3 linked regions of the Homo sapiens genome follow. The protein of the gene in region 3 purifies or fractionates together with the protein of the main gene of each other region. This does not show direct contact. Each region holds a gene or a part of one and is shown on either strand. Other genes may lie near its edges. The genes, in order: EML3, RAB14 and THAP8.

Region 1 (3,653 bases), on a different chromosome or scaffold from region 3:
TTGCCTTTAGGAAGTTACCTCATTTCTGTGAGTCTCAGTTGTCCTGTTTGTAAAATGGGGAGAATAACAGATGTGTTGGCAGTATGAGGATGAGACATAGTAGTCAGTGCATGCAATGGCTGGGAGTTCTTACTGTATTGCGACAGCCAAGCTGGCCCTGTTTCTCACTCCCCTGCACCCCCAAAACATGATCTACCTGGGGCTTTGCCAACAGAGACCTATGGGATTGTGGCCCAGGCTCACGCTCATGAAGGTTCTATCTTCGCCTTGTGTCTCCGGAGGGACGGGACAGTGCTGAGTGGTGGCGGGCGGGACCGCCGGCTGGTACAGTGGGGGCCCGGGTTGGTGGCCCTCCAGGAGGCTGAGGTGAGGGCTGGGCTGGGGTCAAGGGAGTGAGGGAGAAGAGCAATAGTCAGTGGGCTCTTGACATTCTGCTACCACTCTGCAGATTCCCGAGCACTTCGGGGCCGTGCGAGCCATTGCTGAAGGGCTTGGCTCTGAGCTGCTGGTGGGAACCACGAAGAATGCATTGCTGAGGGGAGACCTGGCCCAGGGCTTCTCCCCTGTAATCCAGGTTGGGGGTTAAGGGCTCAGGGGAGGAAGGGACAAAGGGGTGTGAGAGAGGGGCAGGAGTGACAGTCATGCTGTGCTGCAGGGCCACACTGATGAGCTCTGGGGGCTCTGCACACACCCCTCCCAGAACCGCTTCCTCACCTGCGGCCACGACCGGCAGCTCTGCCTGTGGGATGGGGAGAGCCATGCACTGGCCTGGAGCATCGACCTCAAGGTAGAGCCCTGTGCCCCTGGATCCCCCATGCCACACCCACCAGGACACCTGTGGCCACCACGCCTTCCCCAGCACCTTGCCTTCTGCCTCCCAGAGGTGGCCAGTTTGTACTGGTATGGCTGCACTGGCTACTCAAATATTAATTTTTCTGTACTGACTGGTAAAAGCTGATGCTTCTAGTACCACCTGGGCACTCCCTGCCGCCCCCAGAACCCCTCAGACTTCCTCTTGATCCAGCACCTAAATGGTTAATCTCCAGCACAGCTATTGGCATCAGTTCTGTGGTTAAATATTTTGGTATCACTCCCTGTTCAGGCTCCAGTGATACCCGGGTATCCCTTCCCTCTCTTCCCATCTTCTCCTTGGGAGTAAGTGGCTTTGAAGTTAGGAGGACAAGGGGTTCACTCTGGTTCCCTCACTAGAAAGACATCATCTTGAATTCACCTTCTCCCCTCTCCCAGGAGACTGGTCTCTGTGCTGACTTCCACCCGAGTGGGGCAGTTGTGGCCGTAGGACTGAACACGGGGAGGTGAGAGAGAGCCAGGACTCCCAGGAGGGAAAGCAGGGAGGACTGGGAAGGGTTCCTGGTACTGGGGGAGTGGGCGAGAGTGACCACCTCTACCCAGGAGCCACCTGCGCCTTGGCACTCCTCTGTGCCTCTCCCTGCAGCCCCTGCCACCCGGGCTCCCCTCCTCTTCTGTGGTAACTGTTTCTCCCCCTCCCCCAACCCAGTGTCTCCTCCAAGCCTGGGAGTGGAGGAGGCAGCAGCCCAGGATAGAGAAACAGTGGGAATGGGAGGGGCATAGACAAACACAGGGAAGTGACAGGCTTCCAGCTTGCACAGTGCCTTTGTAGTCGGCCCCTGGTCTGTAGTTTCAGATTACTTTTTCAGACGACATCAGAAGCCCCTCAGCCTTTATCCACACTTAGCTCCTTCCCATTTCTCAGCATAAGAATGCAGTGGTGGCCAGGTGCGGTGGCTCACGCCTGTAATCCTAGCGCTTTGGGAGCTGAGGCGGGTGGATCACTTGAGGTCAGGAGTTCAAGACCAGCCTGGCCAACATGGTGAAACCTCGTCTCCACTAAAAATACAAAAATTAGACGGGCATGGTGGTACGCACCTGTAATTCTAGCTACTCAGGAGGCTGAGGCATGAGAATCACTTGAACCCAGGAGGTGGAGGTTGCGTTGAGATCTTGCCACTGCACTCCAGCCTGGGTGACAGAGTGAGACTCTGTCTCAAAACAACAACAACAACAACAACAAACTAAAAAAGAAGAATGCAGTTGTGACCTGTCTTCTACATCAGAGCCTTTCTGTGTGTGTCTCTGAGCTTCTCTTATTTGCCATCCCCAAGCCTACCCAGGGTGGCCTCCCTGGGGGTCTCCTTACATCCTGCCTTTTCGTCTTCCTATCTGCCTCCACTTCCCTCCCTTCCAGGTGGTTGGTTTTGGACACAGAGACCAGAGAGATCGTGTCTGATGTCATTGATGGCAATGAGCAGCTCTCAGTGGTCCGGTACAGCCCAGGTGGGAGCCACCCCAACCCTGGACTCACATGCGTCCCTGGCCCTTCCCTCTCTGAGTGACTGTATTTGCAGATGGGTTGTACCTGGCCATTGGTTCCCATGACAACGTGATCTACATCTATAGTGTTTCCAGTGATGGTGCCAAATCCAGCCGCTTTGGCCGCTGTATGGTGAGGAAGTTGGGGTGTGTGGTGGGGCATGATAACAGCTGCGAAACTCAGGGGTCTGATGCATCAAGGGGGCTCTGGGGATGGGAAATGGATGGGATACTTTAAAACTCTTGACCTTTGCTCCCAGGGTCACTCCAGCTTCATCACTCATCTTGACTGGTCCAAGGATGGGAATTTCATCATGTCCAATTCTGGGGACTATGAGATTCTTTACTGTGAGTGGCAGTGGAGCAGGACATGGGGAGAGGGTAATTGGAGTGGGTTTTGTGTAGGGGGGGCTGTTAGAGGTGTTGTTAGATAAGGAAGTGGAGATGGGGTTAAAGTGGAGTTGGAATTATATGTAGGAGAAATTTCGTGATTTGGAAACAACTAGTTTCACACCATGTCTTGTTGACTTGAGGGAGTTCAAAAATGCGCTAAGAAAAGATTGTTTGGGAAAAGTTTCTCAGGGCAAGTGTGGAGCACTTGACTTATCTAGGGAGGAGGAACTCGTGGAAGCTGTTAGAACTTCAGCCAGAGCTCAGGACAGGACGCACACAGGGTGGGTTTCACAGGGGGAGGAGGTGATGCTACTACGGTGACCAGATCACATGCCATCGCCGGGTTTCATGCCAGTCTTTCCAGTCTGGCTTTCCCTGGCATCTTCCCTACTGAGGGCAGGGTGAGAGCTGAGCTGGGCGGGCTCCCTCTCCCCAGGGGACGTGGCTGGAGGCTGCAAGCAGCTGAAGAATCGCTATGAGAGCCGAGACCGGGAATGGGCTACCTACACCTGTGTGCTGGGCTTTCACGTCTACGGTGAGCAGGGGCGTGGAAACCTGCTGGAAGGGTGGGGGACAAGGTGGAGCCCAGTTTGGGCTTGGAACGCTGGGCGTGTGTCGTTGGGTGAGAGTCCAGAAACCTGAAGATCCAGCCCAGGAGGCCCCTCGGGACCGGGAAGGCTTGCCTGGAACGCGGCAGTGGGTGGCCGCGGCTGCCGGAGCGCCTGAAATGGTGTAGCTCTGGGCCGTGGGTGGCGGTGGGTAGGAGGTCGGGCTGAGGCCGGCCGCTGTGCTAGGCGTCTGGCCGGACGGCTCCGATGGGACCGACATCAACTCCCTGTGCCGCTCCCACAACGAGCGCGTGGTGGCGGTGGCCGACGACTTCTGCAAAGTGCATCTCTTCCAGTACC
Region 2 (3,653 bases), on a different chromosome or scaffold from region 3:
TATTTATATAAAAGTGACATTAAGTATATTGTCAAAAGTAAGGTTTTTTTTTTAAGTGGGTGGGCTACTTGTACTACTGTTGAGGAAATTGACCACTCATTTTTATTAGATTAGATTATTAGATTAACTACAGAAGTTTTATCCGCCTGACTGACAAATCAGGTAGTAGTGGTCCATTTTAGTGGGCCTCTAAAGCAAGTCAGCATGCTTCTGTTGTTGAGTTCCACGAAGGCAGAGACAGTGTTGTCTTTTTTGATCATTGCTGTCTTGCTAAAGCCTGGCACAATGCTTTGTGCTTAGTAGATACTTAACAGATATGTTTATGTTGGAACTACAGAAGCAGTCCATCTCAGCTCTGGTATTTTTAACAAAACGTCGTGCATGTTAAAAAACAAACAAAAAACTTATCAGTGGAAATAACAAGGATAAGAATTAAATTACCTGGAATATTTAATGGGTTGCTTTTCCCTTGTTATGTCTTGGATCAGCTATGTAAAAATTATACAGTAACATCATAGGTTCTAAGGAGTAGAATAGCTGTATAACAGTTTTTAAAATCAGAGCAAACAGTAAGTAGTTAAGCTATTAAAAAACTCCCAAAAATATGCCCTCTACTATTGAGTGTTGGTTTTTCTATTTTGAACCCAATCGTATTATTGGCTTCATAAGATATTCCTCTTATTATCAGTAAATGCGGAAATAATGTTGGGAATATTATGAGTGGGAGATTTGTTTGTTTTTGTTTGGGTATTCTTTAACCTGTATTAAAATAGAAAAGGGCTTTTGAAATATTTATCGGTAGAGAAAATTTTATTTTTAATTCATTATAGTAAGTCAGTGCAGGGATATATAAAGAAAAGTTAATAATTTCTCTATTCCCTGTTTCTCCTGTCCATGTATTTTTCACAATTTGGTGTGTATTCCATATTATATGAATATAGGGTTGAGTGTGTGTGTGTGTGTGTGTGTGTTTGAAAGTGGGGTATGCTGTTGCATAAAACTCTGCAACATGTGTTTTTTCACTTAACAAAATCATGGATGTATTTCCAGGTTAATGCATATCAATCAAAATGGTTTCTAAACTACATGGATATTATTTTGTATTATAGATGTACTTTATTCAGTCATTTCTTTGCTGATTATTTCCAGTTTTTTGCTGTAAAAATGGTGCATTAAATGCACTAATACCTGTAGCCTTATGGGCTGAAGCTTTTGTATATGTAGGATACTTTCTGGGCCAAAGGATGATTTGGATTATTGTTAAGATTTTTAAACATACTGATTACTTTCCAAAATGTTGGCACATTTCCACAAGCAGTATGTATGAAAGTGTATACCTTCACATCTGTACCTACATGTTTCAAAACTAGTCGTTTATATGTCTGTGTAATCTTAGAAAGGTGTCTGATTCAGTAAATAGAAACCATGCATTCTATTTTTGTCACAACAATAATTAGTGTTTAATATTTGTTCAGTAACCACTTAGATCTAAATGTACTGACATGAAAATGTGTCTATCATTTTGTTGAGTAAAAGAAATATGCAGAATTTTACAAGATGGCGTACCCCATTTTAAAATACATTTTTCACCTTAACAGTGGTGAAAATGGTGGTGAAAAATGGTATATTTTCACAGTGGTGAAATGGTATGTTTCCCCAGTGGTGAAAACTGGTATGTTTCATGTTCAGGAGATGAGGTTGAGAAATCCTTTATTAAAGCAATATTAAGCATATTAATATTTTTAAGGAGTCAGTTGAATACATGGCACAGTTGTTAGTGTTTACTATGCATTTAGTAAATATTTCTCTTGGCAGCAAGGGTAGTTTATAGCTAAATTTTACATGCACTAATATCCTTCCTCTTTCTCTGATTTTTATTTTATCAGTCTACCTGTACATACCTGAAATAAGCTAATAATACCTTAGAGAAAATCATGGTCTTTGGAATCAGGCCTGGGTTCAAGTTCTAGGTCTACCATTTACAAACTTTATAACATTGGCCAAATGAGTGAATTTCTCCAAACCTCAGTTTCTTTAATTTTTTGCATGGACATAATGATAATGACTCTGCAGAGTTGTGAGAATTAAGTAAGAATTATAAAAAGTAGTATAGATCATTACATGGTTTACTCTCAAGTGTTCTCAAGAAACTTTTTCTAAGTAAATGAATTATAGTATTATAAGTTAGTATTACTAGTATTACCAGTCATTTATATCTATAAATTCTGACTGCAGTGCATCCTCTGAATGTAATTCATGTATCTTATTCAGAATATTAAATTATAATTAAGCGAGTGAATACTGCAGAGCTACATGGTACAGCTGATAACCATGTGGAGGAGGCACGACGGTGGAGAGGGCAGGATGGTGTGGTGGTTAAGAGGGGATCTCTGTAGTTAAAACAGTCCTAGGTTCAGTACAGACTTGGCTGTGTGACCTGGGCATGTTACCTCTTGAGTCTGTGTCCTCATCTGTAAAATGAGGATAATAATTAACTATGTTATAGGATAGTAGTAAGGATTAAATGAAATTGTATGTAAAATATTTAGCACATTGCCCGGCATATGTCAAGTACCCAATAAATAGTAACTCACAATTGTATTTCTTATTAGTTTGCAAATTGTTGATTATGTGTTAAATGCCTGTTGTCTAAATATGTGGTACTTTTTTTCCTTTAAAGGCAATAAAGATCTTTTACTTACATATGAACTTGATTCGAATACTTTCTGTAAAATGTGGAATAAAGTGAATTTTAATTGTCCCGGTAGTTGTATACAAGTTATAGAATATTACCAGGATTTTTTTTTTCATTTATGGGGATTGTAATGTTAAGTGGGCTCATGTTTTCAGAGTTTGAACCAGACCAGCATTTCCTGTCCTTTTTTTTAGACTCAAGAGTTCTCTAAGTAAAGCAAAAGTACTGTTAAATAATAGGGGAAGAATTTTTTCCCTTCCAAAGTTAGGTAAAAATATATTCCTCACCTTAACAATAGTATGTTTCATGTTCAAGAAATGAGACTGAGAAATCTTTTGTTAAAGCAACATTAAGCCTATTTAGTATTGAATATAATTCTACTGCAAATACTTTTGACTGAAATGTATTAATATCAGTCAACTATGGGAATATATTTAAATCTAGACAGTATCTTCTTAGAATAAGAAAGGGAAGACCTGTTGTGAGTGTTGGTGGCTACAGTGTTAAATGTTTTCTGCCTTTGTTTACTGAAATTAGTAAGTTTGAGTAGTTTTCCTTTAATTCTGCTTTTATGGTTTTTATTTGTAATTTTTAAAGAAACGAGCAAGAAAAATGTGTGGTGTGGTGAGACAGAGCCCTGGTATTAAATCCGAAATAGTGATCATTTCTTTTATTTGGAAATAGTTTCTACTATATGAATGTTTGTAATTTTAAGATACATTTTCAAAATTAGTTATCTCACATTTAATGAATGTATGATAATTAGCAGGTACACAAATTAGTACAACTAAAATTGGGTCACAATTTTATGATAGTCTTTAAAGCATTTGAAGTAGAAATTTGGGATTGTTAGAAGTCATAGCTTTAACATAAAATAGAAGGAGCAAAGTATGTACAGCTACAACCTTTAGTTAGAAGAGGGAAAGAAATTAGGAAAATCAAGGGAGAAGAGCACAGA
Region 3 (3,653 bases):
CCCCTCCACTGCCCCTCCTTCCAGCCTCCTTCCTGGTCTTCCTGCCCACAGTCCCGCCCCTCCACTCCCAATTTGTTCTTCCACATCAACTTGTTGGAGCAGTTTATAAAATCAGACAGTTACGATGTGGGAGATCGTGCAGCCAAGCGAAAACGTTTCTTCCACACCATATAAATGGGGGTGTGGGGTTTCTGGATTAAGAGAGATTTAAGAAACATCAGCACAAACGCAGGATGTGGACCTTGCCTACAACAAACAATTCAGTAAAAAGACATTTTAAGACAATTGGGGAAAACTGAACATGAACTGGTTATAAGATAATTGTAAGAAACTGGTCAGGCATGGCGGTTCATGCCTGTAATCCTAGCACTTTGGGAAGACGACAAGGTGGGAGGATCGCTTGAGCCCAGGAGTTCGAGACCAGCCTGGGCAACATAGGGAGACCTCGACTCTACAAAAAAAAAAAAAAATTAGCCATGTATGGTGGTACATGCCTGTAGTCCCAGCTACTCGGGAGGCTGAAGTGGGAGGGTCACCTGAGCCTGGGAGGCAGAGGTTGCAGTGAGCCGAGATTGCGCAACTGTACTCCAGCCTGGGTGACAGAGCCAGACCCTGTCTTTAAAAAAAAAAAAAAAAAATTCATTTTGCTAGGTGTGATAACTGTATTGGTTTATACTTCTGAAACAGTCTTCTGTTAGAAATCAGTCTGAAATAATTACGGATAAAAGATCTGATGTCTGGGATTTACTTTAAAATAGTGCAGGACAAAAACTTAGAGGTGTGGGCAGGGCAGGGAAGAAGATTGGCAAAGTGTTGATAACTAGTGACACAGTGATGGATACTGAGGGCTCTACTTTTTGTGTATGCTTGAAAACACCCACTAACAAGTCTTTAAACAACTCAACAACAATAAAACACAAATAACCTGATTCAAAAATGGGCAAAGGACTTGAACAAACATTTCTCCAAAGACATACAAATGGCCAATAAGCACATGAAAAGATACTTGACATCTCCAATCATTAGGAAAACGCAGTATCAGAACCCTGATGAAATATCATCTGACAAACACCAGAACAGCTACTATTGAACAACAACAAAAAAGAGGCCGGGCATGGTGGCTTGTGTCTGTAATCCCAGCACTTTGGGAGGCTGAGGCAGGAGGATCTCCTGAAGGCAGTAGTCCAAGACCATCCTGGGCAATGTAGCAAGACCTTGTCTCTACGAAAAAATATTTTTTAAATTAGCTGGGTGTGGCAATGTGCATCTATAGTTCTATCTACTTAGGAGGCAATGTGGGAGGATTGCTTAAGCTCAGGAATTTGAACGCTGCAGTGAGCTATGATCACACTACTGCATTCCAGCCTGGGTGATGGAGGAGGAGGGGAAGGGGAAGGGGGAGGGAGTAAGAGGGGGAGGAAGAGGAAGAGAAGAACAGTGTGTGTGAGGATGTGGAAAAACTGCTGGAACTCTGGTACACTGCTGGGAATGTAAAACGGTGCTGCCACTGTGGAAAACAATATGGCAGTTCCTCAAACACTGAAAAATAGAATTACCATATGACCCAGCAATCCACTTCTGCTTACATACCCAAAAGAACACAAAACAGGGTCTTGGAGAGATATTTGCACACCTGCGTTCGTAGCAACATAAATCAGGCCTGGCGTGGTGGCTCATGCCTGTAATCCCAGCACTTTGGGAGGCTGAGGTGGGTGGGTCACTTGAGCCCAGGTGTTCAAGACCAACCTGAGCAACAGGTGAAATCTTGTCTCTACAAAAAATAGAAAAATTAGCCAGATATGGTGGCATGTGCCTAGAGGCACAGCTACTCAGGAGGCTGAGGTGGGAGGACTGCTTGAGCCCAGGAGGTTAAGGCTACAGTGAGCCATGATCACATTACTGCACTCTAGCCTGGGCAAAAGAGCGACATGCTGTCTCAAAAACAAACAAACAGACAACAGAAACATAGCAGCATAAATCACAACAGCCAAAAGGTGGAAGTGTCTATCAACAGATACATGGATAAGAAAAATGCTGCATATACATACAATGGAATTTTATTTTATTTAGTCTTTTTTTTGGGGGGAGGGAGGAGATGCAGTCTCACTCTGTCACCCAGGCTGGAGTGCCATGGCGCAATCTCGGCACACTGCAATCTCTGCCTCCTGGGTTCAAGTGATTCTCCTGCCTCAGCCTCCTGGGTAGCTGGGATTACAGGCTCCCGCCACCATGCCCGGCTTATTTATTTATTTTTGCGATGGAGTCTCACTCTGTTGCCCAGGATGGAATGCAGTGGTGTGATCTCGGCTCACTGCAACCTCCGCCCCCTGGGTTCAAGCGACTCTCCCGCCTCAGCTTCCCAAGTAGCTGGGATTACAGGTGCCTGCCACTGCACCTGGCTATTTTTGTATTTTTAGTAGAGATGGGGTTTCACCATGTTGGCCAGGCTGGTGTCAAACTCCTGACCTCAGGTGATCCACCCACCTCGGCCTCCCAAAGTGCTGGGATTACAGGTGTGAGCCACTGCATCTGGCCTGGAATTTTATTTAGTCTTGATCTGACACATGCAACAACACAGATGAACTCTGAGGGCCATTAGGGTAAGTGAAATAAGCCAGTCAAATACTGACGATTTCACTTATATGAGGTAGAACAGTCAAATTCCTAGAGACAGACAGTGGAATGGTGGTTGCCAAGAGCCTGGGGGAGAGGGAAAGAGGGAATTGTCCAATGGGGATAGAGTGTTTTAGGAGAGGAAAAAGTTCTGGAGATTGGTTATACAACACTTAACATTAGTGAATTGTACACTTAATGATCAAAATTGTACACTTAAAAATGATCAAAATGGTAGATTTTATGTGTATTTTGCCACAGGTAAAAATAATTTTAATAGGCCAGGCACGGTGGCTCACGCCTGTAATCCCAGCACTTTGGGAGGCCGAGGTGGGCGGATCACTTGCAGTCAGACCTCAAGTGATTTTGAATTCAAGTTCAAGACCAGCCTGGCCAACATGGTGAAACCCCGTCTCTACGAAAATTACAAAAATTAGCCAGGCCTGGTGGCGTGTCCCTGTAATCCCAGCTACTCGGGAGGCTGAGGCAGAAGAATTACTTGAACCTGGGAGGTGGAAGTTGCAGTGAGTCGAGATCACGCCACTGCACTACAACCTGGGCGACAGAGCAAGACTCCATCTCAAAAAAAAATTTTTTTTGTTTTAAGTTTTAAAAAATAAAAGCTTTCTCAGTGGTTGTGGGTGAGGATTATCTGATGAGGGACCCTCTAAATGTGCCCCACTTCTCCGGTTTCCGGGTGCCACTTATTCCCAGCATCTGCTCTTACCCTCTTAGATGGTAATCCACTCTCTATTTAGACCTGGGCTCAAGGCTACCCATAATAAAGACCTCCTTTTCCAGCCTTATTTGCAGCCAGGGGTGGCCACATGATCAAATGCTGGCCAGTTTGTCCTTAGCAGCTGCCAGAAACTGAGACTGTAAATGTTTATTTCAAGCTGCTAAATTTGGGGATAGTTTGTTATATAGCATTAGATAACTAAGACACATCTCATGCATATCCCATCTTCACAATGTTTTCCATATCTGTGATATTACTTATTTCATATTTTTCTTAAAACTAACCAATTTTAACTATTAAA

What was found.
Region 1: the proteins of THAP8 (region 3) and EML3 purify together in Homo sapiens (affinity purification with mass spectrometry; one large-scale study listed by BioGRID and IntAct). This does not show direct contact.
Region 2: the proteins of THAP8 (region 3) and RAB14 purify together in Homo sapiens (affinity purification with mass spectrometry; one large-scale study listed by BioGRID and IntAct). This does not show direct contact.

What each region holds. Positions count from the first base shown.
Region 1 is NC_000011.10:62,602,776-62,606,428, reverse strand, and holds part of EML3 (echinoderm microtubule-associated protein-like 3), read left to right. Parts: intron 1-214; coding exon 215-366; intron 367-448; coding exon 449-574; intron 575-655; coding exon 656-787; intron 788-1,248; coding exon 1,249-1,316; intron 1,317-2,227; coding exon 2,228-2,316; intron 2,317-2,387; coding exon 2,388-2,485; intron 2,486-2,612; coding exon 2,613-2,700; intron 2,701-3,181; coding exon 3,182-3,280; intron 3,281-3,539; coding exon 3,540-3,653. UniProt on the Homo sapiens protein: Regulates mitotic spindle assembly, microtubule (MT)-kinetochore attachment and chromosome separation via recruitment of HAUS augmin-like complex and TUBG1 to the existing MTs and promoting MT-based MT nucleation.
Region 2 is NC_000009.12:121,195,339-121,198,991, reverse strand, and holds part of RAB14 (ras-related protein Rab-14), read left to right. Parts: intron 1-3,653.
Region 3 is NC_000019.10:36,040,693-36,044,345, forward strand, and holds part of THAP8 (THAP domain-containing protein 8), read right to left. Parts: intron 1-3,653.